2 linked regions of the Homo sapiens genome follow. The protein of the gene in region 1 interacts with the protein of each later gene in a biochemical or structural test. Each region holds a gene or a part of one and is shown on either strand. Other genes may lie near its edges.

Region 1 (3,807 bases):
CCGTGATGACAGGTGGCTCCATCACTGAAGACAGGGTGGAGAGAGCGGTGGTGAGGGTGCTGCCTGGCTGGTGTCATAGCCTCAGCACCTGTCCCATCGTGAGGGAAGCAGGGTCCAGAGCCCCTGGAGGCCCCATGGCCACAGGGGGACGAACGGAGGGGAAGAACAAAAGAGGCTTGTGGGACATGAAAAGAGGGAGAGAGGGGACAGCCACGTAAGTTACAAAGAGATGCCTGAGAAAGACAAAAAGGGTATGACAGAAAGAAGCGGGGGCAACAAAAGCCAAGACACAGAAACCAAGAAGGACAAACCCCAGACAGGGGAGAAGGGACCAGAGAGAATGGCAGAGAGGAACAGTGAGGGTGACAGAGTACCCAGGCTGGGGCAGAGACAGAACAAAGCCAGCCCCACACAGGTGAGAGAAGCACATGGTGCTCAGGGAGAGCCGAGCAGGGCCCCGGCACTCAGGAGGGCGGGGGTGCAGGCTCAGCTGAGGGCCTCCTTACCCTTCTCCTTGGCCTTCTGGGAAACACTCTCACCCCTCCCCAACTTACCATGGTGTCCTTCATCTGAGAAATCCAGGCAGGCAGCAAGGGAGGGAATGGAGAGAAATACTGACAGGCAGCCCCAGAGTGGGGCAGATGGCAGGGGACATAGTAAGCTCCTGCAGCCCCCCCGTGGAGAGGGAATGGCAGGAGAGGAGGCCCTGGCAGTGGCAACAAGGGGGCACACGCTGGGCTGGAGCAGTGGCAGGTCAAGCCCAGGGAGATGGGACAGAGAGATGCCCAGGGAGAGGAGCTCCACTGGATAGACACACAGGGCATGTAGCCCAGAGGCAGCCAGGCCATGCCTCCAGCTCTAGCAGACAGGGAGAGAGAAATTCTTGCCTTTAACAAGGAGTGTCCTTGCAGCCCCCTGGCAGGGCCTGGCAGGGCCTGCAGAACTGACCCCACCCATTCAGGATGCCTTGGAAGGCACCGTCCCCTGCTCCAGCCTGCTTCCCTCCTAATCCAATTAGCACAGCTGAGTGTTTTCAATTACCAGGGCCCAGCCTTCAGAGCCCTGCTGCCCCCTCCCCCTGAAAACTATCCCAAAGGCCCTGCTGCCTCTGAGTTTCCATAGCCTGCGGGGTTGGCGCCAGCCCTCCTCTTCTCCCTCCTTCCTCCCAGACAGCCACCAAGCTCTCTGGGGCAGAGGCCAGAGCTGCTGTCCCAGCCCCAGGACTCTGCAGAGCACTGGCCAGGGCGGCCTCGAGGAAGGGAGAAGAGGGAGGGAGGGAGCAGCAGGCTGCCTCTGAAAGCTTTGTCTCTGCAGAAGACCTCAGTGTGAAGGTCCAGGGAGGGAGGAGGGGGCTCCCTGGGGACACTGCAGAGGGCCCTGAGCTGGGGAGGGAGATGGTGACAGGGATGACAGGATGCAGAAAGCCAACTAGGTGGAGGAAGCAGGAAAAGAGACAAAGGGGGCTGGAGTGGCTGGGGAGGGAGAGATGGAAGACAGGTTCCAACAGGGAGGGCCGGCTGCCTGCCACTGCCCACTGTGTCGTATCAGGGTCAAGAACAAGTGCTGGTCAGTGACCAGGGCAGCCTTGGAGCTGCCATGGCCTTTTGGCCTAGTTCTCTCTCCCCACTCCCATCTTTCTGTAGAGAATGCACGGCTTGCATTCCACTGTACAGTGTTATATTGTGTATCCACCTCTGTGTCCTCTGGGTCTAAAAGCCTCACTGGTGTGTGTTTCCACCTGTGTGGCCTCTCAGCGGCTCTGCTCCTTCATCCCTGCACCTGCCTTGTCTTCATGCACCTGTGTGCATGTGTCCATGTGCATCTGTACCAAGGGAGTCTGCCTGGCCCTGGCCCTCCATGTATGTGTCTAAGGGGCCAGCCCCTTTACCTCCTCCAAGCCCTCACTGCCTCCCAACGCCAGGTGCCTCCCCAGCCTCTCTCTCGCAGCCCCTGTCCCACTGCTGGCACAGACAGTCTTCCCAACCCCTATCCGCCAACTCGTCTCTCAGTGACACTGGCCTCCTCCTTGTCCAGGCCCAGAGACAAAGGTGTCAAGGTGAGGCTGGGAAGGGACTGGAGCCTGGTAGCTCAAGAGACACAAATGCCCTCACACATGATACCCTGTGACATGCCCCTCACACGGCCTGACAGCTACTTACAGGAGAAAACACCATCACGGTAACACCCCCCACACGCAAGTGTGTACTTACATTCAGCCCCACTCACACATACACATGACCCAATGCAATCAAATGTCGTGGTCAAATACCTCCCGACCTCCACAAGCCTGGCCAGTAAGTAACAGAGTGACTCACACAGTCACCCATGTAAGGAAGTCAAAATCACATTCACGAATATCTACGCTCAGTCAATCACAAGAACACACAGACATACACAGTGTATCCATGCTTAATCACAACCCTACGGCCACACTCCCCAACATCCACTCACCTGCTTGTGCCCCCAACAAATGTTACAACCATAGACACATGCTCCAGCAGCCCTGCCCCCACCCCCACCAAATAACTACACACAAAAAAGGGTCCAGAAGGCTGCTGGGCTGGGACCAGGGTTTTTCAAGCCACCTTTTCCTGTCTCAGTTCAGAGACAGGGTGACCAAGGGCCCAGGAGGGGAAAGAGAAATGGGGACAAGACTTGAACACAGGCCTTTGCACAAGCCAGCTGAGGGCTGGGGACGACCCCATTCTCCTGCTGCCACACCCCTGTGGTGGGGGATGGAAGCGGAGGAGTCGGAGTGGGGCGGGCAGAGATGGGGCGGGCTAAGGAGAGCATGGAGGAGGCCCAAGACCTCGGGGCCCTGCTCCAGGTTCGCTGTCCCTGGTGCTGAAATCGCCCCGGCGGCCGCGCCTGTCCCTGTCCATGGTCCTGACACGCCCCGCACCTTCTACCCTGCCCTTCTCTCCGGGGGTACCCAACGTCCTGGCTATCTCCTGCCCACCCTGTGCCCAGGAAAGGCCAGGGAGAGGAGTCAGGGTCCGGAACAGGGAGAAGGTGAGGAGGTAGAAGATAAAGAGGGGCCCAACATAGCGGCGAAGGTAGGCGCCCAGGCTCCCTTCAGCTACTCACATTCCTCGGGGATCTGGATAAGCAGGCAGGGGCTGCAGAGGAGGAGAGGCCACACGTACCGCAGCGCCACGACCATCTTTCCCGGCGGCACCGCGCAGCACAGCCAGCCGGGCTCGGTTCAGGCTCCGGCCGGAGGGGAAGGGGGCTGGTGGGCGGCTTGGGGCGGGAGTTGGGAGTGGGGGCACTGGGAGAGGGGAGAAGGGAAGGGAAGGGTGGGGGAAGAGAGACGAGAGAACGGAAGGACGTTAGTGACTAACATCTGGGTAAGCCCGGGCTCTTGGCCCCGCCCTCAGCCCCGCCCCCAGCTGGCCGGCTTCTCCAGCCCTCCCCTCCCCATCCGCACCCCTCCCCACCTTGGAGGGAGAAATCTGGAAGAGATAGCCCTGGCTGGGCCTCTAGGTTGCCTTTTATTCCCTCTCTACTCTCTGTCTGCACCTTTCCTGCCAGCTGCCTTCCCAGCACCAACTTGTTGCCCCATCAGCTCCCCTGTGCATGGCATGCACATCCCCGTATGTGTCTGCATGTGCAGGTGTCCGTGGGCATGTGTGTGGTTGTGGATCTGCAAGCAGGGAGTGAGCTGTATGTGAGCTGGTATTTCTGTGGTGTGTCTTCTCTGGGAGGGGTTGCACTCATGAGTGGGTGTGTTAGTGTGTGTGCCTGAGGGAATCAACACACAAGTCTGCTAGCTACGTGTGTCTTCTTGTATGTCTTTATGTATCT
Region 2 (3,807 bases), on another chromosome or scaffold:
CCGAATAGTTGGGATTACAGGCACATGCTACCACGCCCTGCTAATTTTTGTATTTTTAATAGAGACAGGGTTTCGCCATGTTTGCCAGGCTAGTCTCGAACTCCTGAACTCAAGTGATCCACCCGTCTTGGCCTCCCAAAGTGCTGGGATTACAAGTGTGAGCCACCACGCTCAGCTTGCAGCCTTCCCCCATCCCTTTTGGGTGAGTGGGAAGAGGGGGAAGAACAGGTCAGTCCTGGGCATTTAATAAACAGACTTCTAGAGCTTTAGGGAGCCTCTGGCCTCCCTGCACCCTTCAGATGAAGAAACAGGCCCAGATCAGGAGTTAATTTGGAATTTTAGGATTTACTTTAAGCAAATGCTCTGTATACCTGAGTTGTCATTTCTAATGTATTCAACCCTCTTTGGCATTAAATATGATAGAAGCCATGTATTTGAAGGATGGTAGCATTTTTTAAAGTTTAACATTATATATCATGGGATTTTAAATTAGACATCTATGTATATGTAAATAGTCGAACTTGTCTGGGACTCGGTTTAGATGATGTTCAACAAATGTCCACAGCAAGTTCGACTATCACTGCTTTTCTGTTTACAAGACAGTCGTGAGACTAAGCAGCTCAGGACTCCTGTAATGCACAACAGAGGCTTGAAAATGTGAAATCTTTGCTGTGACCTAGGGTCGGGATTCTACCTTTGCTGTATCAGAATGTCCCATTTCTGGAGGTCTATAAGATGCAGGTTCCTCTGGGCACCCCTGTGCATTGACACCCTTCCGTCCCAGAAGTCTGCCTTGCCTGTTTTCCTGCCTTTCCTAGGATTTCTTTGTCCCTGTTCCTAGTAAGTCAGACCCCTGGGCCAGCTGGCTGAGAGGCAGAGGCAGGCAGCCAGAGGAGGCTCAGGTGTGGCACTGGATGCTTTAGTCTTCTGCATGAGCACACCTGACCGGCAGCGATGCACCCACCGCACTGTTCCCTGGGGGGCTGTGGGCTCCCATGGTTCTGTGTGTGCTGGCCATAACCCGCCCTGCTGAGTTTCATGCAGGAGAGCATCCTGGAGTACAAAGGAGTAGGAGTGAGATTTTCTAAGATTTGAAGGTAGAACCCTGAATCTGCTCAAATTTATATTAAAAATAAGTCGTTCATGGCTTTGAGATAATAGCCTCAGTTAGTAACAAGTTATTTGAGTGCAAAAAAAGATGTTGCCCAGTGGTTGGACTGAGCAGATGTCCTGGTTTCCTGGGGACTCTGCTAGACCATGTGATGAACGACAGCCAAAAGCTGTTGCCCTTTTGAGTGAGTTTCTCATGAGTGTTGAGCCTCTCTCTCTCTCACGCAGGTGGTAAAGACTATCGGCCTCCGGGAAGTGTGGTACTTTGGCCTCCACTATGTGGATAATAAAGGATTTCCTACCTGGCTGAAGCTGGATAAGAAGGCAAGTCAGGATTAACTATTTACAGGCTGTGGATTGGGTGTTGGTCTGCTTCATCGATAAGGAAACTGGAGCAACTCACCCTGTCTTTTGTTTTCTGTTCCTTTTTGTTTGTGTAAAAGTTTTTACAGACAAAAAGGTTGCAGGTTTCCAGTAAATGGAGATATCGATTGGAAATCAGATCTGGCATTTCTCCATAGTGCTCACTCATTGGAGCATATGATGGTTAATTGCATAGCTTTTAGTTGACCTTAGTTTTTTCAATGAGATTGTTAATCTTATAAACTGTGAATCATCCACCATCTTGTAAGAACCTGTTATTGCTTTGTTTGAACCTGTGACAGATTATCTTCCAACTTTAAAGAGTGGATAATTCCATTAACCAACCAAAAAGAAAAGTAGTAAGATAAACATTTTCTTCAAACTCTGAAAATTATCCTTTTTTTTTTTTTTGAAACCCCCACTGTCCTCCCAAGTCACAGCAACAAGTTAAAAAGATGATGGGAGGTGGGGAAGAGTGGAGGAGCAGGAGGAATTCTTAACAGTAAGTTTCGGGGTCCAGGGCCCGATTGGCATGTGGCCCCATTCCAGGTCACTGGGGTCATTTCCAAATTTGAGTTCTCCAGGATTGATAGCATCATCCCATGAGGACTGGGGCTTAGTGAGGCAGTAGCTTTGATTTCCAGCTGAGCACAAGAGTGTGATAGTACTTGTTTGTTTTTTGTTGTTGTTGTTTTGAGATGGAGTCTTGCTCTGTCGCCCAGGCTGGGGTGCAGTGGCACGATCTTGGCTCACTGCAACCTCCACCTCCTGGGTTCAAGTGATTCTCCTGCCTCAGCCTCCCAAGTAGCTGGGACTACAGCTGCATGCCATCATGCCCGGCTAATTTTTTTGTATTTTTAGTAGAGATGGGGTTTCACCATGTTGGTCAGGCTAGTCTCGAACTCCTGACCTCGTGGTCCGCCCACCTCAGCCTCCCAAAGTGCTGGGATTACAGTCGTGAGCCACCATGCCTGGCCTGTTTTTTTGTTTTTGTTTGTTTGTTGTTGTTTTTTAAGAAGAGACAGGGTCTTGCTCTGTCACCCAGGCTGGAGTGCAGTGGCGCCATCATAGCTCACTGCAGTCTCGAACTCCTGAGCTCCAGGGTTCCTCCTGCTCAGCTTCTTGAGTAACTGGGACTATAAGCATGCATCACCATCCCCAGCTAACTTTTTTTTAAAAAATGTTGTAGAGATGGGATCTCTTCTACGTTGCCCAGGCTGGTCTTAAACTCCTGGGCTCAAGTGATCCTCCTGCCTTGGCCTCCCAAAGCACTGGGATTATAGGCATGAGCCACCATGTCTGGCCTGTGGTAGCACTTTTGACTAACCTTTTTTTGTCTGGAGTGCTAAAAAGATGACTTTAAGAATAAATATCTCCTGAAAACTGGCTTGAGGGCCCCATTGAGTCTTGGTTAGAAGCCTGTGTTGGGGACAGTGGGCCTTCGTCTTCCGGATTTGTGTGGAGAGTGTGGCTTGTTTCGTGCAGGTGTCTGCCCAGGAGGTCAGGAAGGAGAATCCCCTCCAGTTCAAGTTCCGGGCCAAGTTCTACCCTGAAGATGTGGCTGAGGAGCTCATCCAGGACATCACCCAGAAACTTTTCTTCCTCCAAGTGAAGGAAGGAATCCTTAGCGATGAGATCTACTGCCCCCCTGAGACTGCCGTGCTCTTGGGGTCCTACGCTGTGCAGGCCAAGTTTGGGGACTACAACAAAGAAGTGCACAAGTCTGGGTACCTCAGCTCTGAGCGGCTGATCCCTCAAAGGTGAGCACAGGATGACCCGGCCTGGGCAGGAGCAGTCATGCCGTCCTCGGCAGGGAGAAGTGATTGCCTTAGAAGCACAGTTTAAAAACACAAGGACTTCGCCAGTGTCAAGTGCTCCTTCATGCTAGTCATTAAGTCACTGACCAGCGACCTGAAACATAGCCAGGGAAGGCGAGCTGCCATTCCTCATGGAAACTAAAGCGTGGCCGTGTCCTGTGGGACATGGCATAGCAAACTTCTCGACCTGACTGCTCAGCTCCTCCTGGGGTATGATAGGTTGCCCCTGTGAAATCTGTTTTTATTTAGTAATGGTCACAAAAATTACCCCATTTGGAAGAAGAGGCCACTTAAAATACCTCTTAGTTTTTCCAGCAGAACTGAGTTCTTGTTCAAAATGCTAAGTCTTCCAGATTAACTGTCATAAATAGAAATGCTGCACATCAGGAAATAGAAACCAAAGCTCTTTGGGATTGATTGATTTGAATGGAAAGTAAGGGTTTGAATGTGGGTGGTAAGTGGGCCTCCTTCCTTGCCTGTCACATTCCTTAAGGATGACAGTGCTGTTTCCTTTTGC

Evidence for each region.
Region 2: the proteins of L1CAM (region 1) and EZR form a complex in vitro, tested with the Homo sapiens proteins (one study listed by BioGRID).

Annotation. Positions count from the first base shown.
Region 1 is NC_000023.11:153,872,674-153,876,480, forward strand, and holds part of L1CAM (neural cell adhesion molecule L1 isoform 1 precursor), read right to left. Parts: intron 3,342-3,807; exon of another isoform or gene 3,272-3,341; 5' UTR 3,164-3,271; coding exon 3,088-3,163; intron 570-3,087; coding exon 555-569; intron 25-554; coding exon 1-24. UniProt on the Homo sapiens protein: Neural cell adhesion molecule involved in the dynamics of cell adhesion and in the generation of transmembrane signals at tyrosine kinase receptors.
Region 2 is NC_000006.12:158,784,735-158,788,541, reverse strand, and holds part of EZR (ezrin), read left to right. Parts: intron 1-1,338; coding exon 1,339-1,434; intron 1,435-2,958; coding exon 2,959-3,233; intron 3,234-3,807. UniProt on the Homo sapiens protein: Probably involved in connections of major cytoskeletal structures to the plasma membrane. In epithelial cells, required for the formation of microvilli and membrane ruffles on the apical pole. Along with PLEKHG6, required for normal macropinocytosis.